2 separate regions of the Homo sapiens genome follow, and region 1 is linked to region 2. Evidence: fine-mapped expression QTL. A gene starts in region 2. The other region holds a variant in brackets. All regions are shown on one strand. Distances are between the middles of the regions.

Region 1 (11,792 bases), 49 kb before region 2:
ACTTTTTGCAGTTCTAAAGCTGTCTTTTGTTTTGAAGCTATCTGATGTCACAACTGAACAACCGACGGGTGAAGGAGCACAGTCTGTGTAGCTCACAGGCACGCCCACAGTGCCACTGTGCTCACCCTGGTCAGAATGGGGACCCATCAAATCTGGTACCGCGTCGTCTTTTCCAGGAGAATCGTGCACTGGAGTAGATTCCTCTATTTTTGCAAACTGTTTCACAAGTTTTCCTTGTCGTGACTTCTTTTTGGACATGCCTGTGTCACTCTTATGACACTTTGCCTCCCCTTTTTGTGCAGTCTCATGAGCCAGTTCTTCCTCCTGCAGCACAGGAGCTGGCTGCAGCTGTTCACCACTGTCGGGGCAAGGTTCCGTCACACTGCTTTTATAGCCATTCAACGTATTTGGTTCAAGCTTGATGTCAGAGGCCTCCTTCAGATTTGTTCTTGTCCTCACTGACCGCCGAGTTATGTAGGTGCAGGGCGAGCTCTCCCCCTGCGAATGAGCACCTCTCACAGGATTCTGTCTGTGTTCTCTCGCCGCGTGTCTAGTCAAGCACCCGCTGGCAACTGCGGCTTGGGCTGGTCCCTCTGGCTCCTTATCTTTTTTAATGGGCAAATTTTTATACAGAACTACTTTAGGCTCTTTCAGTACTAAGTTTCCCATTTCGAGTTTTCTTGAAGCATTCTTTTGCTCCAGCCGCTTGCAATGATTTCTCAATTTTATCTTTGAAAGTAAAGGCTTTGCAGGCTTCTTCAGTTTCTTTGGTACCCTGGAATTATTTATATGAGTTAGCTTAGATGAGGTAGAGTTGGAAGAAGCTGGAATTCTTGACATAGATTGCCTCGTTAACGTTCTGCTCTTGCTATTCTTTTTTACGCCAACTGAAGATTTTCGGTTAGAAGCTGTAAGGTTAAAGAGAAAAAGGTGAAAAGCCTTGGTAACAGCAGAGTTCAAGAAAAGAATGCCCAAACCCAGGCTATTAGCTACAGCACGTTTAGATTACACAAACGCCAACACCACGGCTCCTGCTGCAGATTCTGCCAGCGCACCTGCATTCCCTACACTGCTTCTCTTTGAAGTTCTTTTCTAATTTATGGGGCATCTATTCATTTTTGAGGTAAGTAGTTGCACGGTTAAGGAGCTTTTCACAGCAGGGACCTAGATTCCACTCTAAGCTTCTTAATCTGTCGTGACACTGGCCCAAACGAACGCTTTCTTCTCCTGATTTAGTAGTTTCCCACATAAAAGATTTCAAAGAAAGTTAACATGGTTTTTTCCTTTCACAGATTCTCCTTAGTCATTTAAAATGTTTCTAAAATCCATTGCTCATTAACCTAAAGGAAGTACAGCACTTGGCCATTAACATAGAGTAGAAATAGAATACTCATGGGCTCTAAGGAACAAATTCTATCGCAATGGTTTCAAACAAGAAAAACAGATGCTAAGAACCATATATTATCACTCTGAAAAGTACAGTCACTACCGAAAAAGAAATGCACTATTCTAAGTTGTCCCCTTCAACTCCGTGAGGAACAGAAGAGGCAACCAGTGGGCTGTCAACTTAGAAGAGCTGCAAAGCTTACTCAGCCCCATCCCTTCAGTGACGGCCAGATGCCAACAATCACAGTGAAGGAAGATGCACGCTGCTAGAATTGTACACTCTCAGGACAAAGGGAGATCCAACTTCTTTCCTCCAAGGCCAGGATAGAAAAGGGTTACAATGACCCTAATGGTAATGACAACCTGAGTAGTGATGAATATGATTCCATTTGAGAATGAGCGTATTCTTATCCACTGGAATTATACAGAACTACTAGGTAGAAAATATTTTTTAAAATATAAGGATATTTAGATAATTCTTTTGCTACAGAATTTCTTTATGCTTACGAGGCTTGCCTACAAGGTGGATCGAATAGACGTGCTGTCAATATAAAGAATAAAGTTGAATGGCTTCTCAAAAGGCTTCATTTGTGACTCAAGCTTAAGCTGCTCCTGTAGTGTCTCTGACCTTGCCACTGACTTTCTGCTATGTTAATTTTTCCTCTGTATTGACATTCCAGACTATTATTTATAGAAGTTGTTACACAAGTCAGTTTCTCAATTACTTAGTTCTTGCAGGTCCAGTTGAAAAACTTCTTCCTAATCAAAACACTCCATTTACAGATTCACTAGAGAAGCCACGATAACAAAACGAATCATCACCACCTCTCATCAGAACAGGGAGGATAAAAACAATAAAACATGGGTAAGCTCAGCACACTGCCCAACCAAGTGAGGACCAGGATCCTGCAGAGAAATCTGTCGCTTTCTACATGCCTCAGGTTGCCAGGGCAACTGCCATTCCTTCCGCCCAGCTAAGCAAGTAAGTTACCATAAGTTCAGTTTTTATTGAGAGAGGAGCAAGAATGCATCACAACATTCCAAAAATATCAAACCACCAAGAATAGAAGGCTCTGCACCTGAGGTCAGGAGTTCGAGACCAACCTGGCCAATATGGTGAAACCCTGTCTCTACTAAAAATACAAAAATTAGTCGGGCACGGTGGTACGTGCCTGTAATCCCAGCTACTGGGGAGGCTGAGGCAGGAGAATCACTTGAACCTGGGAGGCAGAGTTTGCAGTGAGCCAAAATCGCACGATTGTACTCCAGCCTGGGTGACAAGAGTGAAACTTCCTCTCAGAAAAACAAAAACAAAGAAGGTCCTGCACGCACAGACTGGCTCATAAATGGCTTCAGGGTACATAAACCAGCAGAATTCACAGCAAAGGGATTCACAGTTTGAAACAAGAACATACTTACACATGTGGGCTGCTACCAAGGTGGCGCCTCTTTTTAGAATAGTAGGAGTAGTGAACTTTGAATGTGATTCAATTTGAGAACGAGTGATTTATTATCCACTGGAACTATACAGAACTATGTGATAGCAAATTTTTTTTTAATAAGAAATTTAGAAAATAAGAAAAAATAGGGAACTCTTCGGCTAAAGGGTTTCTTTATGCTTGCCTACAAGGTGGACTGAATGGACGTGCTGCCAATATAAAGACACTAGTGAAGAAAGGACTGCACTGCTTGGCTTCCCTTTGCTTGGCTCTCTCAGATGTGGCTACGATGATCCTTTGCTCATTCTATGCCTCCTCAAGGACTAATTTATGACCAAACTTAGTGGTTTCCAACCTTTGATTTCTCCTCTTTCCATTCCACTCTCATGACGTACCTGCAAGCACCCTTACACAACACTCACATCTATGTCATATTCTCAACAGCAATCCCCGCCATCTGGATCCAGCCTGCTCCTCCAATGAGACAGCCTTTGGTGATCTGACAACTTCTTGTCGTCAAACCCAGCACACACTCCTCAGCCCTTCCCTTTCTTCATTTCTCTGAATGTGACACTGATAACCACTTTTTCTTGAGAAAACCTTTCTTCTCTTGGCTGTCAAAGAGAGCGCACTCTCCTGGTTCCCTTCTCCATCCCTGGCACCCTCCTTCATCGGCCCCTTAGACTGTTCTTCTTCAGGTCTGTGTAGTCCTAGGCCCCAGGTGACAAGCACCCATTCTCGCACGGCTATTACCACTTACAGGCTGACAGTTCCCGAACTCTGGCCAGACCCGCTCCTAACTTACAGAACCAGGTCACCAAATACTGACTGTCTCTAAGCCCCTAAATGGAACTCACCATCAAGTCTCCTGACGACGTCCCCTTTCGAGGTCTCCATCTTGGTCAATATCACCACCACATGCCCAGCTGCCAAAGCAGAAAGCTGGAGGTCCTCCTTGACTCCTGCTCTCCTGAACTGCCTCACCAAGCCAATCACCATGTGCCGTGGAGTCCACCCCTGCAATGTCACTGCAACCTGTCTACTCTTCCCTGTCTCGAAAGCCACAGCCTCCTGCATGAACTATGGCAGTTTTGTTTTTCCTATTGTTTTCCCAACAATCCGTTTACCACCACATAGCCAGGATGACTTTCCTAGTGTATCATGCAGCTTCTGGGCTTTAAACCTTTCAGCAACCTAATGCCCTAAGAATGAAGTCTAGAATTTTAACCTGTGCTCACATCTCTTCTTCTTAGCCTGTACTCGCCATGAAGAAAAGCTTTGACTCAAACTCCCCTCTGTCTATAGAGCTGTCTGAAAGGCCCTCTGCTTTGAATAGGCTTCACTTGGCCAACTTCTCATCCCCCTGTAAGACTCAGCTTAGGCAACACCTCCCTGAGGGAGCCTCTCGGGACTTTCTCTGCAATGCCTTTCCTATGTCTTCTCACAGCACCCAAGAAGCTCCTTCCTTGGTACTTCTTATTTTCACCCGTTGGATGACTCCCATTTTATGGTGATTCTGAATTCGGCTCTCCCCATCCCATCCCTCCTTCCAAAACATTCACTGTTGACAACAGAAAACCAAAGCACTTTTATGTGTTTGTCTCTAAACTAACATAAACGCTCCATTTTTGAGCACAAAATGGGTATGTATTTGATGCTATGTATTACATCAACACAGAGATTTCACTTACATGTTACCAATGTATTCTAATTTTGTTTGAAAAGCATTATCTCATCAAAAGCCCTGTCAAAAGGTATGCTCATCAAATCAAAGGAAAAAAAAGACAGGCAAAGAATTTGAGAAATGTGACAAAGATGAGGACCCAGTAGAGTGACAAGAGTCCTTCACTGTCCAAAGAAGCTGCACTGTCCTGGCAGGGGTTGAGAATTTCAGACAGTGAAGGCTAAAGGAGGAAGACAGTGGCCACAATGACAAACTAAAAGTCAATGATTT[T/TAA]AAAGTCCATCAAGAAACCAAGGACTATGACCTAAGTGGGGTCAGATGCACCTGTGTTTGAGCTTGCTGTGGCACTTATATGCCTCGTATGACTCTTCCCCTAGGGGCTGGGACAAATCTCAAATACATGGACCTGGACTGTAATTTTAGGTGGGGGTACACATTCTTCTCAGCAATTACTACATGCTAGGTGCTGTGCAAAATGGCCACATTCATCCTAATGAACGCCGTTGGAAGGGAAAGCGATTAAAGCTATGTGAAAACCAAGCTTACACGAACTAGCATGCCTAAGGTCATCCAGCTGGTGAATGGCAGAGATGGGACTTGTTAGGCCTTCCTGAGCATTAAAATCACGCTTATGCTGCCTATAAGGCATATACAGAAGAATTATGGTGTTGGCCTCAACTTACGGGTAAAGGCCCCACTGCATGGCTATTATGGTCATTTCAGGGTGTCCTCAAAATCATAAGGCAGGGTGGCACAAGACTTCCAGTCAGACAAAAGAGCTGTGACCGACACCAAAGCCTTCCTGAGCACTCAGGCCGCACTGGAAATGCACAATCAGCGTGAACTAAGATAATACAAGGGCCACAGCTGAGCATCTCCAGAGCTGGAGGATCCAGAAGGCCTCTGACAGGACTTTAAAGACCTCGGTCTCAAGGAGTTTACTTGGCACAAGCAGCTTTCATCTGACATGACTAGCACAGACTGCCAATGGCTACCTGGAACGGGGTGTTAGAATTTGGAAGCAGCCCGAAGGCTCAGCAGAAAAGTGTTCAGATCAACTCTTGACATGAGTGACAGGGCAGGAGTGAGGAGCAGCGCCCCAGCCTCTGCATCTAGGACAGGTGCTCCATAGTTAAGATCAACTTCTCCCTCTGGCCGATTCTTCTGGGGCTTGTCCTGACTTGTGGCACCTGCAGAGACCCGTGTCCGCATCTTCACAGACCGCTCGCGAGCCTCTCTCTGGTCTCACCTTCCCTATCACAGCACTAACTTCAGAGGGGGCAGCCCAGTCAGCGAGGCATAAGAGGCCTGAAAAACCAGAATCCTCCAGTCCTGGCATTCTAATTCAGACCTGTGGACTGGATTTGTGAAAACGGATTCCTTGTTGTCTCTACTTCTGGATGCTAAAGCAAAGTCACACCATAGCTCTCAAGGTACTTTCCGAAAAAGCACCTGTATGGAAATTTTTCTTCCAACTACTCAGAACATTTTTTTATACATGTGTTCAAAGAAAGCAGTTCCTCTGTCAGCTGCTAAATTCTAAACGAACCACATGATAAAGATGAGCAGCCACACAGAAAAAGCACTCCGCAAACACATACACAGCACATGCACCCACCACCCTGGGAGGAGGGACTGGCAGTGCTGGCTTTCCTGCAGGATGTGGCTTCCAGAACCTTTCTTTCAGACAGGTGGAGGGGATGGCTGAGACAAACACCAAAAGAAATACAGCCTAAGAGAACGCATGTAAGAACTCAAGAAATCCTTATGTGAACATGACTTAACATACAATGGTCTCAGAGACAACTAAAGCCTTGAGCTCCTTCAGAGAGAGCACTGAGCCATGCCTATCCACTCTGCCCATGACCTCAGAGTTAGTCATACTGATCCTTGGATTGCTCCAATCATGCTGCAGAAAGGGAATTTGAATAAGCCAAGCACCCCAATATCAGCAGTCCCTGCAAAATGTACACCTTTCTTCTGTAATGCTGAGACTTCAGCTTAAAGCGATTATTCAGTCCCTCTGAACTTGAAAGCCTGTGCCTCCAGTTTGTTCTGCTTACTTGTGCACCTGTCTTATCCTGGAGCTAAGTAAGGCATAAGCTCCCTGAGGAAAGGGCCCAAGTCTCAAACATCTTTGTATGTCTTCAAGAACTAGCAGGATTTCAGTAAGTATTTAGTTTGTTAATATATATTCCCAAATATTTGGTTTAATAAATATTAATAGTTAAATATTAGTACACCCAACATCTTCCAAAAATTATTTGTATTCTTATCTTTTAAACTAAGTAGTATATTGAGTTCAGTAGCTATACACCAGTAATAAAGTTACTACTTAAGCATAAAACACCTACATCACATAGCCATTCAACATAGGCAACTCTGTGGCTGTCTCCATATACAGATGGCAGCACGAACCTAAGTGTTTTTGTTTAAAAATCACAGGTCTCTGGCCGGGTGCAGTGGCTCACACCTATAATCCCAGCACTTTGGGAGGCCAAGGCAAGGCGGATCACCTGAGGTCAGGAGATTGAGACCATCCTGGACAACATGGTGAAACCCCGTCTCTACTAAAAATACAAAAATTAGCTGGATGCGGTGGCACGTGCCTGTAATCCCAGCTACTTGGGAGGCTGAGGCAGGAGAATCGCTTGAACTTGGGAGGCAGAGGCTGCAGTGAGCTGAGAGTGTGCCACTGCACTCCAGCCTGGGGACAGAGCGAGACTCCGTCTCAAAAGAAAAAAAAAAAAAGACACAGGTCTTACTATGTTGCCCAGGCAGGTCTCAAAACTCCTAGGCTCAAGTGACCCTCCCACCTCAGCCTCCCATGTAGCTGGGGCTACAGGTGTGCCACCATGCCTGGCTTTTAAGTGTTTTTATGTCTGCATTTATAAAATGGGCTTCACAAGTCTCCAGTTTCACCAAGGAACCAGACTCAGAAAACAAATGGTCGTTATGCTGCATTTATTATGAGAATCAACAGTCAACAGTTAATGATTGACTAACTCTTGTTGTTCACTCTGGACATTAACGAAAAAGACTGGAATAGGGCTACAGCGCTGCTTTTATGCTACACGGGTTATGCTTGGACTCTGACTCCCAGCAGCAGGTAGATTCAGGAATTCATGGCAGTGACATTCACCATCATGGGAAACACCTTCCCTTTTCTTCAGGATTCTCTGTAGTGGAAGAGAGCACCCAGTGTTGGGCTGAAAACATCTGAAAGTAGGGAGAAGAACCTAAAATAATCAGTATCTCAGAGGGCTCTAAGGTGCCAAGAAGTCTCACTGGACATTTAAGTGCCAACAAAGGCATACTTTCGGAATCGCCAAGTCAAAACTTTCTAACTTCTGTCTCTCTCAGAGACAAGTGAGACTCAAGAGTCTACTGCTTTAGTGGCAACTACAGAAAACTGGTGTTACCCAGAAAAACAGGAGCAATTAGAAATGGTTCCAATATTTCAAAGCTCCGCAAACAGGATGTGCTTTCCTTTGCCCATTTAGGGTTTCTTCTCTTTCCTTTCTCTTTGTTTAGTCTTCGTTCTCTTTTTCAGTTTCCATCAGATCTTGCCCCCACACACCACTGGAATCTCAGAGGTTGCTTCTTTCTCCTTTCCATCTTTACTCCTACTTTCTGGAGTAGCCAATACAGCATGTCACAATACGGCACTGTTCAAAATGCTCCTCTATCACAATTCTGAGTCTGGTACTGGTGGTCTGCTGAACTGAGTCAGTTCGTTTTGAAAAAGGTCAGCAAGCAATGAAAAGGTGGAAGCCTTAAGGCCAGAAGCTATGAATTCCCCAAGTCCATCATCTTTTCTAACAAACTGGCTAGGCACTGGAATGTATAGAGTCTAATTTAATTCTACTCAGTCCTTTTGTCTTCTTGCAGGACTTAGCGACATCATCACAGTCTCTAACACCTTGAAAATGTTTAAAACATATGATGACCTTGGAACATATGATGAAGAACTCATATCCAGTTACCAAGGTATTCAAGAAAAATAGTCTAGAGGACGGTACTGAAGTTAGAGATGGGATACAGACTGTGCCTCTACTCAAATCACGTCTAGAGCCTTGAAGTGCAGCCAAAGCTCACAAGTCCCAGTCTCTCTGAGTATTTAAAAGTTTAAAACTACTGAAGCACACTTTATAAAGCAAATTGTGTGAAAATACTTTTAAAAGATATGCTTATCAAATCTCCCTTACTTACTTGCATTGTTTTTTTCCTGAGTGGTATCTGCATCAGTGTTAGAGCTGACAGATTGACTGTCTGAATTTTTGCTGCTGTCACCTAACTTTTTAAGCCTATTTAAACGTTTATCTGTTTCTCTGAGTCCATATTTGCTATTGATAACAGGAGCAGGCGCAGGCAGTCCCACTCTGGATTTAAAAGCACCAGTGCCCCGTCTGAAAGAGAAAATAGCACAGGTTAAACAAATAGAACACACTTTCTTATAATAAGCTTAACTGCTGAGGGTACTTGGCTACAGGTTAACAGATGTGATGAGCTGCTGAGGCCTTAATCACCACTGGAAACCGAAGACTAGAACTCACAAAGGAAATTAAGTATCTATATTATAAAATTAACTTTAAATCTATATTTAAAATAATAAAACAACTTGTTATGACTATTATCAATCATTAATTGCCTATGAGAAACTACTGGACCTTGTAAAATTTTTTCCTTTTTTTTTTTTTTTTGAGACAGGGTCTCACTCTACCGCCCAGGCTGGAATGCAGTGGCACGATCATGGCTCACTGCAGCCTCAACCTCTTAGGCTCAAGAAGTCGTCCCACCTCAGCATCCTGAGTATCTGGGACCATAAGCGTGTAGCACCACCACCAGCTAATTTTTAAATTTTTTTTTGTAGAGATGGGGTCTCACTATGTTGCCCAGGCTGGTCTCCAACTGCTGGGCTCAAGGGATCTTCCCAGCTGGGTCTCCCAAAGTGCTGGATTTACAGGCGTGAGCCACAAAGTCCAGCCCTTTAATAAACATTGCCAGATTACTTTGCCAAAGGGATAGAGCAAATCATGGTCCCACTAGCATGGTGTGAGTTCCTGCTTCTCCACATCCTCATCAACGGTACATTGTACTCCTTAAATTTTACCAAAGTGGGCCAGGCATGGTGGCTCACACCTGTAATCCCAGCACGTTGGGAGGCTGAGGTGGGCAGATCACGAGGTCAAGAGATAAAGAGACCATCCTGGTGAACATGGTGAAACCCTGTCTCTACTAAAAATACAAAAAAAAATTAGCCCGGCGTGATGGCAGGCGCCTGTAGTCCCAGCTACTCGGGAGGCTGAGGCAGAAGAATTGCGTGAACCTGGAAGGTGAAGGTTGCAGTGAGTTGAGATCGAAACTTACACAGAGCAAGACTCCGTCTAAAAAAATTTTACTTTTTGCCAAAGTGATGAGTGAAAATGAATACCTAATCTTGTTTTAATCTCATTTATGGCCATTTTTTTCCTGTGAAGCATCTCTGCATCTCTTTTTCCTTTACCTTTTTTCCTATTTGACTATGTCTTTTCCCTATAAGCTTATAGGAGCTTTTTGTTATTAGAATTTTTTTTTTTTTTTTGAGACACAGTCTTGCTGTGTCACCCAAGCTGGAGTGCAGTGGTGCGATCTTGGCTCACTGCAACCCCTGCCTCCTGGGTGCAAGCGATTCTCCTGCTTCAGCCTCCTGAGTAGCTGGAATTATAGGCGCGCACCACCACATCTGGCTAATTTTTGTATTTTTAGTAGAGACGGGGTTTTGCCATGTTGGCCAGGCTGGTCTCGAACTCCTGACCTCAGGTGATCCACCTGCCTCAGCCTCCCAAAGTGCTGGGATTATAGGCGTGAGTCACACGTGCGTGGCCTTTGCTTTAAATTTTCTAGAGTAAAATGTGCAGTACTTATGAACATATTACAATTACTACTGTCAGTACAGTGTAGCAGAGAAACATGCTTCAAATGTATCCTGGAGTGTCTAGCGCGACTCAGTGTCTCTGCACACGTGATTCCGTCCATTCTCACTTCTTCACGGAGCCTCTTCCTTTTACCCTCTGGCTCTCAGCACAGTGTGTGTGTCCCCTTCACTGAACTGCCCTGACAGCTGGCACTGTGCTGGTCTTGTTTATCCTGCATGCACTTGGCCTAACATTAAGTAACTGTTCAGTTAATATGTAATGAATAATGGAATGAGCTCCTAGATGCATCTTCCCAGCTAATTTCTGTAAAGGCAGAAACAATTTGGTGTTTATGAGAACTTCAAGAATATATGCAGCCAATCTTGAAATCAAACTGCTCAAACAGTCTGACAATAGCCATGGCCACTATTCTCCATCATGCTGTTCCATTTAAAAAGGACTTACACACGTTTCTATCTACTTCTCACACTAACCTTGTGGAGTAGGTGGGATTATCCTCATTTTCACCAGTGAGAAAACAGAGGCTCATGAAAGAGAACTAATCTGCTCAAGGAAAATGACTATACCTGCAGTTCTAAACCAGGGAAAGAGCTGTTTCGGTGTTGGTTTGGAATCCTCAGTATGTGGTTAGGTGTTTTCAGGACCGCCTCCAAAAACTTCATTATATATATTTACTCTATTCATTCATTTACCAAATATTTATCAAGGACTTACTATGCACCAGGGTACTGTTCTGTATTCTGGGGATATAGCGGAAAATGAAACAGATACAAGCCCCTGCCTTCATGGAGCTCATATTCTAATGGGAAAATAACCAGAAACCAATTATTGTAGTTAACATTTGTGTATTAACTGTGTGCTATTCTACATGCTTTACAGGAAATAACAAATTTAGCCTTCACATCAACCCTACAAAATAGGTTCTGATGTTATCCCCATTTTACAGATGGGGAAATTAAGGCACAAAGCAGCTAAGTGACTTACCCTACACATCACATAGCTAATGAAATGCAGAGTTGCAGGATTCCAACCCAGGCAGTCTGATTTCAGATGATAGGCACTTAACTGTTATACTGTTTCCTCTACAAAATGATTTTGAAGAATTATTGAACTATAATTAAACTACTTTAAAGGGTATTCTCTGGACTGGTCCAAGATCTAACCAACATGTGAATAATTTTTATGTAGAAAAAGATAAATTTTATGTCCCTCTGCCCTGGTAAAAATTCAGCAGCACTAGGAACTGGTTTTCTGCCACATCTTTATGGCAAGGAGCCCACTCAGTGCTGGGAGAGGGATGGCTACGGTAGCACTGTGACTTGATGACTCCGTCCTCTCTCACCACACAGTTGGAAATCCCTGGCTATC
Region 2 (12,586 bases):
CTGGGAGGCGGAGCTTGCAGTGAGCCAAGATTGCGCCACTGCACTCCAGCCTCGGCGACAGAGCGAGACTCCGTTTCAAAAAAAAAAAAAAAATCATGCCAAGCTACATCTCCCATCCTAAACATTCAGAGGGACCACAGACTGGACTACAGAGCTTCTTACAACACAGTTTAGTTTGTGGTGTACCTGGTCAAACAGATTATTTTCACACCCTATAAAAGAAGATACAAACATCACTGCCCTTTAACACACACTCAATACTATCATCCCCATTTTACAAATGAGAACAAAACTCAGAGAATTAGAAAAAAAACTGAAGTGAAGTCCAGGCTGAGAGACTGTGTACTGTTAATATCACACAAAAAAGCAACACAGGCCAGGCACGGTGGCTCACGCCTGTAATCCCAGCACTTTGGGAGGCCGAGGTGGGCGGATCACGAGGTCAAGAATTCGAGACCAGCCTGGCGAACATAGTGAAAATCCATTTCTACTAAAAATACAAAAATTAGCCAGGCATGGTGGCACCTGCCCGTAGTCCCAGCTACTCGGGAGGCTGAGGCAGGAGAATCGCTTGAACCCAGGAGGCAGAGGTTGTGGTGAACCAAGATCGTGCCACTGCACTCCAGCTTGGGCAACAGAGTGAGACTCCATCTCAAAAAAAAAAAAAAAACAAACCAAAAAACAACACAGAATAATGACCCAAACAAATTTTTTATTTTTTTAGACGCTGTCTCGCTCTATTGCCCAGGCTGGAGTGCAGTGGCACGATCTCTGCTCACTGCAACCTCTGCCTCCCAGGTTCAAGGAATTCTCTGTCTCAGCCTCCCGAGTAGCAGGAATTACAGGTGCCCACCACCACGCCCAGCTAATTTTTGTATTTTCAGTAGAGACAGCGTTTCACCATGTTGGCCAGGATGGTCTTGAACTCCTGACCACGTGATTCACCTGTCTCGGCCTCCCAAAGTGCTGAGGTTACAGGCGTGAGCCATCACGCCTGGCCCCAAACAAATTTTTAAACACACTTCGCCCAAGCCAGGCACGGTGGCTCACGCCTGTAATCCCAGCACTTTAGGAGGCCGAGGCGGGAGGGTCACGAGGTCAGGAGTTCAAGACCAGCCTGGCCAACATGGTGAAACCCCGTCTCTACTAAAAATACAAAAGTTAGCTAGGCGTGGTGGCATGTGGCTGTAATCCCAGCTACTCGGGAGGCTGAGGCAGGAGAATTGCATGAACCGGGACCTGGGAGGTGGAGGTTGCAATGAGCCAAGATCGCGCCACTGCACTCCAGCCTGGGCAACAGAGTGAGACTCTGTCTCCAAACAAACAAACAAAAAAACCACTGTGCCCCATATTTGAAGAGTAAAACTCTAGAGCAAAATAGACATCGTTCCTGACTGCATAGAGGTCAGAGCATACTATGGGAAGAGATGTAAGTAAGTATGTGGTTATCAATCTGATGCGAGCTGTAAGAAAAACAAACAGGATGTTAGGAGAGAGACTAATGTAAGAATGGACTTGAGATGGGATGATCAGGGAAATATAAATCAAAATTGTAAATATAAAAACAAGACCAGACATGGCAGCTCATCCTATAATCCCAGCACTTTGGGAGGCCAAGGCGAGATGATTGCTTGGGCCCAGGAGACTAAGGCTGCAGTGAACTGGGATTATGCCACTGCTCTCCAGCCTGGGAGGCTACAAGACCCTGTCTCAAAAACAAACAAACAAAAAATACCTTTTTTGGGTCAAAAGCCCTCCTGGTACTTATTTATATGCACCAAACAAATATTTGCTTTAAACCCTCCAGGACCCTGAATGACGTCTGGTTTTGTTTCCTTTCCAAGGGGGAAAGTGAAGGGGGGTTTCCTATGGTGCCACTGGCTCACTGGCTGAAGGATCAAGCCCCCTTTTACTTCTCAGTGAGGAAAGCTGCAGCTTCCTAAAATCAGATTGGTTTTCTTACTAAAAATATCTATTTCTCCATATGATGCAACATAAACATTGCCTCGAAAATAAAAATACTCCTCAGAGACCATTAAAATGTATCATACATTTCAACCGTGTTATACAAATCAGACAGGCAAAACAATTCATCGGGCCGACCTAGAATCCACTCAGTTCAACAAACTTATGAAGAACCTCCCAGAGCTGCCAGGCACTGTTCGTGGTGCTGGAATACTGGTCATGTCCAGGGAACACTAGAGGGCGTATGAGAGCTTCTACTTTCAGGAAAATCAGTCGTTGAGTCAGGGAAGAAAACCAAACAGATGCATAAGGGGAAAAAAAGTTAACAGGGTAGAAAAGTACAGACTAGGAAGCAGAATGACCCTTCACTGAATGGGCCTTTTGCGTAAGGCCTGAGAAGCAAGCCGAGTGCCATTAGAGATGTGCTGACCAGGCATTCCTATAAAGGTGGCACAAGGTAGAAACACAGGTGTCACAACACACACATTCGGTTTCTACTGGTTCCCCTAACATGCAGGACTCGGGATTCGCTAGCTCAGCAACCCTATCAGGTGAAACAGGTATTAGCACTACAACAAGGAGGCTAAAGCTCAGAAACAAATTGCTTTCCTAAACTCAAAGTGCTACTAAGTGGTAAGGGTGGGTCTAAAACCTTCATCTTTAAACTGCAGTCTGGGGTTTACTCCAGTGCTTGAGCCACGTGTACCACCTAGAGGTTTATCACCAGCAAATGATCCCCGGATCTAGGTACTGTTTTCTTTCCCCCTTTTTTTTTTTTTTTAAGAGACGGAGTCTTGCTCTGTCGCCCAGGCTGGAGTGCAGTGGAGCCATCTCTGCTCACTGCAACCTCCAACTCCCGGGTTCACACCATTCTCCTGCCTCAACCTCCGGAGTAGCTGGGACTACAGGCTAATTTTTGTATTTTTAGTAGAGACGGGGTTTCACCGTGTTAGCCAAGATGATCTCAATTCCTGACCTCGTGATCCACCCGCCTCGGCCTCCCAAAGTGCTGGGATTACAGGCGTGAGCCACCGTACCCGGCCGGTACTGTTTTCTTTAGTGTGCTATTACAACAGACAAACTAAGACAGCTTATAGAAATGCAACTGGCATTGTAGGAGTCATACAGGCCCCCAATCAAGCTTTGGGGGGGGGGACACTGATACCCTAGTCTCTCAATTCTAAAACCCAACTGATTAACTATCTCATAATGACATTTCAAAAAAAGGAGGTAAAACTACATGAAACATGCAGATGAACTAAGGTGATTAGAGAGATGTCAAAATATGATTAAAATAATTATTAGGAGAAAATAGGATGGCAGTGAAGTGTAAAAGATGAAGCATTAATACAATTTTGGATTGGAAGTGACCTCAGAGTCGTTTTGTAGACGGAGTCTAGGCCCTATCAATGACTTATACAAACAGTGATAGAGCAGAGAATGGAATAAGAATTGATTCTTATTCCATGGTCCTTCAACTATTCCTAAAATTACACTTCTATACAGCAGTCATCATTTGACATACGGCCCTAGAAGATGGCCTGGTGTTCAAGTCTGTCTCATTCGGAGACCGGCTAGCCCCAAATCAACCCCATCCAGACACATAATGGATCACCCCCTGCATTTACTTAACATGCAGTATTGTAGCTAACAGGGTGATGGAGCGGAGGGAGGACACATGGTCCCTATCGTCAAAAGTGTGAGGAAGATTCTTAACCATCAGAGCGTTCTAAGGCTGACATAGTCGGGGAACTCCTGACCACGGAGAAGGATTTTGCCAATGGAGAGATTTGCCAATGTAAAGCTCATACATGGTACACAGAAACACGAAATAATGGGACCACGGCGATTTATCTGAAAGGATTTGCTCTGTAAGCCATGGGAAGGGCATTCCTGTGGACAGGGAGCTGCTTAGATGCCACACACACAAATCTCTTTATCACACAACCTGGCCACGAACCCAGGCCCTATAAACCCACAAACTGATAATCAGGTAAAGGAAAATCAGATTCAACCTCCTTTTTAAATAACCCAAGAGAAAAATCACCAACATCCCCCACCCACTAAATTCTCTGCTGAAAGACACGCAGACACCGGGACACTTCCTTCACACGCGTCTCTCCCTGTCAGAGTCCGCTACCCTCCATCCACCTCCACCTTCCCCACTACTGTCCCCTGGCATTTGCTGCGAGAATAAAAAGTTCACTGCATGAGCAGTTCAGGGTGTTTGGGAAAGCAGATGAAAATAAAGGCGCGAGAGCACTTGGAAATGATCATGGATAAAGAATCAAGCCCTACCCTACTCTCTTATTGAAGAAATATCTACCATATTCCCTTCACTCTCCAGCTCAGTTTTTAAAATATAATTATGTTTGTAAACAACATTAAAGTGGATTTATTTTGAAAAACTAATACAAACTATTAAGCTTGACAACTTGGAGATTAATAAATTAACCCATTCATTAAGGGTCTATGAGCACCTACTCTGTACCTGCCCGTGGGCGGACGAGATAACAAGAGACTCAAAAACTCACGAGTAACCACCCCAACGGCTGTGTGTGTGAAGGTTTCACCAGGAAGCAACATTCTCACGGGGCCTTTCTGAAGGACAAGAGTGTACGGGGTGGAGAAAAGGGGTGGAGGAATGCCGGGCAGGGCACGGCCGACAGGGACCAGGTATGGGAAGCTATTGGAGCCAGAGCTTGGGAGAGGGACCAGAATGTCGAATGTTTAGAGATTACAAAGTGAAAAATGGGCTGGAGTTCCCACACAAGCCGGGATTAGAGCGTTTGTGGACTCTAACCTGGGAATATAAGGCGCTCCAAGAGGGACAGGGCCACACCTCTGGTTCAAATTGCTAAACCTTCAGATACACAATAAATCTGTATTTACAGCAAGCGGCAATTTATGTATTTCAACATGCACACATTATCTGTAATTATTTCAGGTAAAAATGGTTTCCTCCTCTTTTGAAAATACTTCTTTTTACTACTAATTATCAATATTATAGGCGTGTTCTCAATATTAAAGACTAAAGGAAAAAAGTTATAGCTGGCAACTGCTTCCTCTAAAGATCCTACACAGCAAAGTTCAGACCTGTATGGCCATCCTCAACTACACTTTATATCAAACTGGTTTAAATCGAAAAAGGTCCACATCACAAAGAACCACAATCAATCAAATTAATTCACCTGCCCTCTATTCTAAGGAAAACTCCCCCCACTCCAGGTAAATTTCATTTGGCAAATTCTTAAAAATTAACTTCAAAGAACACATGTTCACCTCCCCAGTATTCCGAAAGTTCCACCACTTAATAAATCGTTAAGTTACTGTTCCAGACCCGGGTCCAATAAACCCAAATAGACTGAATTTCTCAGCACCCAACTTGTTTCTATCTTAATCCAGCAAGTTGCATCGAGTTGTCATTGTTCCTCCTTCCAAGGCGGAGGTGACAACGGTGCACATCATCCGCGAATACGTGGAAGGACAGACACACACCAGGGGACGCAGGGAGAGCGGATAAAGCACAAAGGGGACGCAGCGGCCGCGGGGTCGCCGGGCCACGGCCAGGGGCGCCGTCGGGGAGGAGGGTGGGCTGCAGGACGAGCTCGGGAGGGCTCCGAAATGCGCTCGGGCCAAAACAAAAACAAAAAGTTCAGCGCGGCAGTGGGAGCAGATTGGGCGAGACGGTTCACGGCTGCCCATTGGAGAAAAGGGAAAACAGAGTCCCCCAATCGCGAGCGGCGGGGCTGCTCCCCTCGTGCGGCCGCGGGCCCGGCCCCGACGCTGCCCGGCGGCCGCTACCGCTCCCTTCCGGCCGCGGCCACCACTGCAGGCCCCGCGCCGGCCCCGCACCGGCCCGGCCGCAGCCCCGCCCCCCGCGCCCGGCCGCTTGCGCCCGGCCCCGGCCCCACCCGCCCTGGCCCCGGAGCCCTGCGACCGGCCTGGGCCCGCGGTCCCCCACGTCCCTGCCCGCCCCGTCACCGAGGCCGCCCCCCGCACACCCTCGCCGGCGCCCGCCCCTCCCCCGACTCACCGCCTGCGCCGCCCCGCTCCTCCTCGGGGCGCGTCCCAGGCCCCGCTGCCCGGCCGCTGCGATGCGGGGCCGCGCCGCCGGGCCCCGCGTCCCAGTCCCCCCCAGAAAATTAATCACCAAAAATAATTCCAGAGAAAAATGGAGAGTAAAATCCAAGATGGCGGCGCGGGCCGCAGCACCGCTCGCTCCCTCCGCTGACGGGAAAAATGAGTCCCCGCAGCGTCCGAGCCCCCCGCCCCCAACCGGCCGCCGCCGCCGCCGTCGCGCCCCCCGCGCCCCCGGCCTCGGCTCGCTGCGCCCCCGGCGCCCGCCCCCGCGCCCCGCCACCCGGGGCCTCACCTCGCCTCGCGCACGGCCGCCCGTACGAAAACCGTCCGCCGGCTTCAGGACTCCGCGTCCCAGGTCCGTGCGCCGCGCGGTGCCGCCTCCGGTTCCCGGGCGTCCTCACCTCATCGCCCCGCTGCCCTGCCGCCCGCACCGCCGCCGCGTCGCCGCCCCCGGTGAGCCGCCTGGACCCCGCCCGGGCACGGTGGAAGGATACGAAAAGAAGGCCGCGGCCTCGACGGCGGAGGGACACCGTGCGGCGCAGCTGCCACAGTGTGCGCGCGCCTCCCGCCAGGCCCAGCCGCCGCGGCGCTTCCACGGGGCTCTGTGCGGGACGCGGGCACGCGCGGGGAGCGAGTTCTGTGCCGGGCGCTCCCGACGGCGGAGGGACAAAGGGCGATTCAGAGCGAGCCGTCGCCTCCCCTCGTGGCGGAGGGATTCGCGGCCGGCCGGTAGGCGGCTGGGATCCCTCCGCCCTCGCTGCCCTTTAAATCGCGGCTGAGGCGGCGTCGCCCGCGCCCCGCGGGCGCCACGTTAGGGTCCCCTGCGGCCCTTACGCGACCGCATTCCGGTCCCGGTCCCCGCGGGACCGCGGCAGCTGTCCCGGGCCCTGGGTCTTTGCACACCTGCCCCTACCAGGGACGGCTCTAGAGCCAGCCTCTCGGACTGCAGCCCTGGGGAAGGGGACCCCCCCCCCTCCCGCCGCGCGTCCCAGTTGCTCCGAGGGAGGTGGCCCCGGGCAGACGAGCGTTTTTGTTGTGGGAATGGGGGTCACTGGCAGCAGATGCACCCTAAGACCGTGTGGGCAGGCTGAGCGTTCCTGCGCGGAGCATGCGAGGGAGGAGGAGAGCGGGCGCGCCTTGGCCTGGCCCCCCGCGGGCCCCGCCGCCCCCAGCACCCACTATGTGCCCCGCGCCGTGCTCCGCTCCACTCCGGGTGTGCCCTGCGCGCTGGCCGTGCGATCCCTCCTCGGGGATCCCGGGCTGGCGGGGAGATCCTGAGGGACCGGGCCGCCTGCGAGCCGGGGAGCTGCGAAGCTTGCCTGGGCATCGATCTTGTAGTCCAGACAACAGAACGATGAGCGCGCTCCCGGCCCCTGCGGGGCTGCCCAGGGTCTCCGCGCATCCTCCCTCTCACGCGTCAGGACGACCCCCGGAGGTGGGGGCCATGTGGGTGCCACTTTACACCTAGGGAAACTGAGGCACAGGGAGTTCCGTGACCTCTATGACAACTAGTCAGGGCTTGAGCCAGAGCCCTCTTTCAGCATTCGGGTGAAAAATGCAGAATAAATCAGGAAGCGGGTGCGGAGGACCTCCAAGAAGTTGAGGTTGGCATAGGCGTGCACATGCCTGGAACTTGGTGCCGGCAGGTGCCCAAGGAAGCGCAGACCTGGAGTGTGAATTGGAGCGTGTTGGGGAAAGGGGGTGCCTAGGATATGGGCGGGTAGTGGGACCAGCCAGTGTCAAAGCCCTGGGAGGGGAGAGAGGCTGCCCTTGCCACAGAGAGGAGGCGGGCAGGGCAGGCAGCTCAGTCAGATGCCAGGAAGAGCCGCAGCCTGCCTTAGTTTTCCCCTGCGGCTCCAGGGCCATCATCCTCCACAAAGGATGATGAATCGAGGCTGTGGACGACCACCCAACACAAGAACTGGACTAAGTCCAAGTAACACTGACGCACAGCGCCTCCCTCGTTTGCCCTCATTCTCGACCTTGACTTTGGCTGGTAGACATGATGCTCATTACCGCCTTCCACAGAGGGAAACTGAGGCACGGTGACTCGCTGAGGGCACATGGCTGACGGAGGCAGAAGCGGGTCTCATCTTCAAAACAGAGCTCCTCCCACTGCCTTCACCTGCCCTATCAGCAGCTTCCTCCTTTTGGAGGCCGATTCGGGTGTGGGCGGTGGGCACAGCCCAAGCACTTCTCCTGTCTGCCCTTTCACTAAAAGCAGCGTCATCTGTGGCAGCAGAATCCACTCTGCCACGTTCGTCTTTGCAGACGCAACTAACAAATGATTGCTTTGGTGTTCTTGGTTTCTGGTTTATCAGAAACTTTCCAAGATTTTCGTAGTGCCTGGCTCCAAATACTCAACTTGCACCCCAGAAACACTGAGCCTGCCTTTGCCACCCACCACCACCGAATGCCTATGGGAGGCGAGCTCACTAGGGGAATACCATCTGCCTCTAAGTCGACCTTGGTCTCAGGTCCCAAGTCCAGCTATGCCTGAGCAGCCCTCCAGAGCCCCCAAAGCCGATGTCCTGCCCACTCCCAGCTTTCCAGAGCCCACCCCAGCATAGAGGTGCTCTCCATGTGCCCTTCAGGGTGAACGCCAAATCCTGAGTCCTGTGAAGCCCCCATACTTCCAAGATGCAGACACTTCCATGTGTTCACTGCCTGATGCCAAGTCAAGTGTTCTGGACATTTCCTTGCAAGGCTGGGCCCACAGCCTGGCAGGGATACAGATGAGCAAACCCAAGCCCAGCCTGCTCCCAGGCCCCCAGTTCTGTGTGCATTCCTCCCTCAATCCCCCTACGTTGCCAGCTGCTCTTCCAGCCTCAGCTGAGAGGCCCAGGGTGGGCCAGGGCTCCTGGCAGAGCTGAATTGGGGTTCAGGACCTTGGTGGAGCCATGCAGGGGGCTTGAGGCCTTTGGGGGTCCCCACTCAGGGAAGCCAGGGCTAGGCTGGGCTGAGAGCACAGCCCAGGAGAGCCCTTCCTAGGGAGACTCCCACAGGAGAGGCCAGTTGGAGGCTCCTCCTGCCAGCTGGCAGGGGAGGGAGAGCAGGAAGTAGGCAGCCAGGCACCTGCCCAGTCCTGTGTGTCAGGAGCCTTTGGCATTTACACTGGGAGAGCTCTAGGCACCCCAAAGTGGAAGAGCTGAGCCACAGAGGCTGGGGGGCCTCCCCAGCCTGGCCGGACCAAAAGGGATTAACAGCTCTAAAGAAAGACCGAGTCAGCGGAAGGGGCCCGGCTGGCCCCGGAAGCACCGTGAGGCTGGCCAGGAGTGCCAGCCTAGCCCGGAGCTGGCCTAGGAGTGGCACGCTTGCCAGGGCACTGACTGAGGCCATGGAGTCTATTTTGGTCTCTCTAGCAGGTCTGGCTCTGGTGTGTCCAGGGGCACTCCAGCCTAGTGCCACCCACCCTGCTATGCTCTCTCGCTCCCTTTCCTCGAGTGCCAGGTTCACTCAGTGACAGGATGGCAGGGATTCACTTGCTTTGATCCTGTGCTTACTGGGATGGCCCACAGGTCACGTTGACCCCAGAATTCCAGGCTGGAGGCAGGTTGCTTTTCATTGTAAAGCGATATGTTGGCTTTCGTGCTCCGCACATGCGTCTGCCCCAGTCCCCACCCCGCCCGGAAGCTAGGACTCCTCTGATGGGAGCAGGTGTCTGAAACCGGAGGGAGAGTGGGGCGTACCCGGCTTTCCCAGTGGCCCCTCTGGGCGGCTGGCGGGTTTCCTGGTCACATTCCTGAGCACCACTACCCCCGGCACCATTCTTGCTTTCCACCTGCCCCTCCACTGCCACTGTCCTTGAATAGAAGAAGAAACAGCCACTGAAGCCGGGCGTGGTGGCTCACGCCTGTAATCCCAGCGCTTTGGGAGGCCAAGGTGGGCATATCACCTGAGCTCAGGAGTTTGAGAACAATCTGGCCAACATGGTGAAACCCCGTCTCTACTAAAAATACAAAAATAACTGGACGTGGTGGCGCATGCCTGTAATCCCAGCTACTCAGGAGGCTGAGGCAGGAGAATGGCTTGAACCCGGAAGGTAGAAGTTGCAGTGAGCCGAGATCATGCCAGTACACTCCAGCCTGTTTTTTGAGACTCTGTCTCAAAAAAAAGAAAAAAGAAAAAGAAACAGCCACTGAAAGGTCAAGTGACACACACGAGACCCCTGGTCAACAGCAGCAAGACTGTACAGCAGCTGCCAACAGAGGTTGGCACGAGTCTGACCTGGGTTTGAATCCTAGCTCTGCAGTTTACCAGCCATGGGATTTGGGACAAATGATGTAGCCTGTCAGCCCACCATTCCTTTACCTGTGAAAATGTCCATTCCTTGGACCTGTCTTAGTAAGTTCCTCTATAGCTTTACAATTGTTTATGTGCTTCAGATGCTCAAATTCTCTCTCCAGCCTGGACTTCTCTGAACTTCAGACAACACTACTTCGATGCTTAATAGGCATTTCAAATATAACACGGCTAACCTGGGGGACACACGAAAGCAAAACCCTCTCCTCACACACCCTTCCACCTCTTCAAACAGGTACCGTTCCACCACTCAGGTCCAGGTCCAGGACATAGTTTTCTTTTTTTTTTTCTTTCTTTCTTTTTTTTTCTTTTTTTTTTTTTTTTTTTTTTTGAGACGGAGTTTCACTCTTGTCGCCCAGGCTGGAGTACAGTGGTGCACTGTCGGCTCACTGCCACCTCCACCTCCCAGGTTCAAGCAGTTCTCCTGCCTCAGCCTCCTGAGTAGCTGGGATTACAGGCGTGTGCCACCGCGCCCGGCTAACGTTTGTATTTTTAGTAGAGATGGAGTTTTGCCATGTTAGCTAGGCCAGTCTCGAACTCCTGATCTCAGGTGATCCGCCTGCCTTGGCCTCCCAAAGTGCTGGGATTACAGGCGTGAGCCTCCATGCCCGGCCAAGACCTAGTTTTCATTCTTCCTTTGTGGCTTCAGGGTTCTTTCTCCTTAGCACATACGACAGCTCTAGCATTCTGTATCTTTCAGTATTCATCCTAGGGCTGACTCTCCTTTTAGACTATCAGCTTCTCAAGGGCAGGGAGCTTTGTCTGTCTCATTCATTGCTGTGTCTTCAGCATCTGGAACCACCCCTGGGGACAGAGTGTTGAGGCTTCTATGCTTTTGCTGAAGGGAGGGAGGGAGGAAGAGGGAAAGATAATACTAACTTTCCAGGGTTGCTACAAGGATAAAGGGAGGTGCAAGGGGCTCTGTAATCACTCCCCAAATTCTGGGGGCTCAATCTTGCTTTGTTGACAAGGCTTCTCCACCACCCACCCCACAAGATGTGTAGCGTTCCAGCTCACGGGTGCCCTGGGGGTTGTGTGCTCAGCACCCACCTGGGGCAGTGGGACAGGCACCAAGAAAATTTCCCTGTCACTGAGGATGTTGTTCCTTTGGGATCCCATCACACACCTTTTCATCTCCCCTCCCCCAAATAAAACTCAGCCCTAACCAGCCCTCTCTAGAAGCAAACACAGAGAGGACTGACAGCAGCTGGCAAAGGTTTCCTCATGGGCACGGGGAGCTTTGTTTTTTTATTATTACTATTATTTTTTAATAATTTCTGGCCAGGTGTGGTGGTTCACACTTGTAATCCCAGCACTTTGAGAGGCCGAGGTGGGCGGATCACTTGAGGTCAGGAGTTTGAGACCAGCTTGGCCAACATGGAGAAACCCCCTCTCTACCAAAAATACAAAAACTAGCTAGGTGTGGTGGCATGTGCCTGTAGTTCCAGCTACTTGGGAGGCTGAGGCACAAGAATCGCTTGAACTCAGGAGGCAGAGGTTGCGGTGAACCGAGATCATGCCACTGCACTCCAGCCTGGGTGACAGAGCGAGACTCCATCTCAAAAAAAAAAAAAAGAAACAAAATCAAAAAAATGAGATGTTACAACTGAAGCAGTTTTGATTTAACCCATTATGGGTGATGTCCACTTGGGTTACCCGTCATGTGGTTTAGGGGTGTCCAGGCTTCCCCATCGTCAGGTCACTTGCTTGCCCATTGTCATAAATAAGTTTTCTGTGGAGAGGTTCACTGAGGGGATGTGAACATCATTCCTCACCACATTTTATATATATATACACACACACACACACACACACACACACACACACACATATATATATATATATTCTGGTATATATATATATATTCTGGTTTATATATATATATTCTGGTATATATATATATTCTGGTATATATATATTCTGGTATATATATATGTGTATATATATGTATATATATGTATATATATATGTGTATATATGTATATATGTATATATATATGTGTGTGTATATATGTATATATGTGTATATGTGTATATATATGTGTATATATATGTATATATGTATATATATATGTGTATATATATATATCAGAATGGATTTTTGGGTTCCTAGTTTTGTTCATTTGGTGTCTGTTCCTTCCTCTCTCCTCTTCTTCTTCCACCCTTTCTTTCTTCCTCTTCTCTTTCTCTATTTATTTCTCTCTTTCCCTCCCACTCTCTTTATTTCCTCCTTTAC

Which allele goes with the higher level. Alleles are on the strand shown, and positions count from the first base shown. SD is a standard deviation of normalised expression in the study named.
In carriers of allele TAA in region 1, the expression in prefrontal cortex of the gene that starts at base 6,160 in region 2 tends to be lower than with T alone (small effect, 0.22 SD a copy in ROSMAP).

The links. PIP is the estimated chance that this variant, and not a neighbour inherited with it, causes the effect. A credible set is the group of variants that fine-mapping cannot tell apart.
Region 1: its variant is the best candidate, but not a certain one, in a credible set for the expression of KMT5B in prefrontal cortex (ROSMAP, PIP 0.54).

The regions. Positions count from the first base shown.
Region 1 is chr11:68,158,264-68,170,055 of GRCh38, forward strand. It overlaps KMT5B (lysine methyltransferase 5B), which reads right to left. Exons shown (of 11, transcript NM_017635.5): 10 at 8,719-8,915; 11 at 1-908. Among named protein-coding and RNA genes, the nearest start is that of CHKA-DT, 42 kb to the left of the region's middle. The variant T/TAA (reference allele first, on the strand shown) is at 4,780.
Region 2 is chr11:68,207,137-68,219,722 of GRCh38, forward strand. KMT5B (lysine methyltransferase 5B) reads right to left here and starts at 6,160. Exons shown (of 11, transcript NM_017635.5): 1 at 6,002-6,160. RefSeq lists silencers at 5,397-5,866, 6,452-6,891, 7,002-7,141, 8,326-8,620 and an enhancer at 6,838-7,540.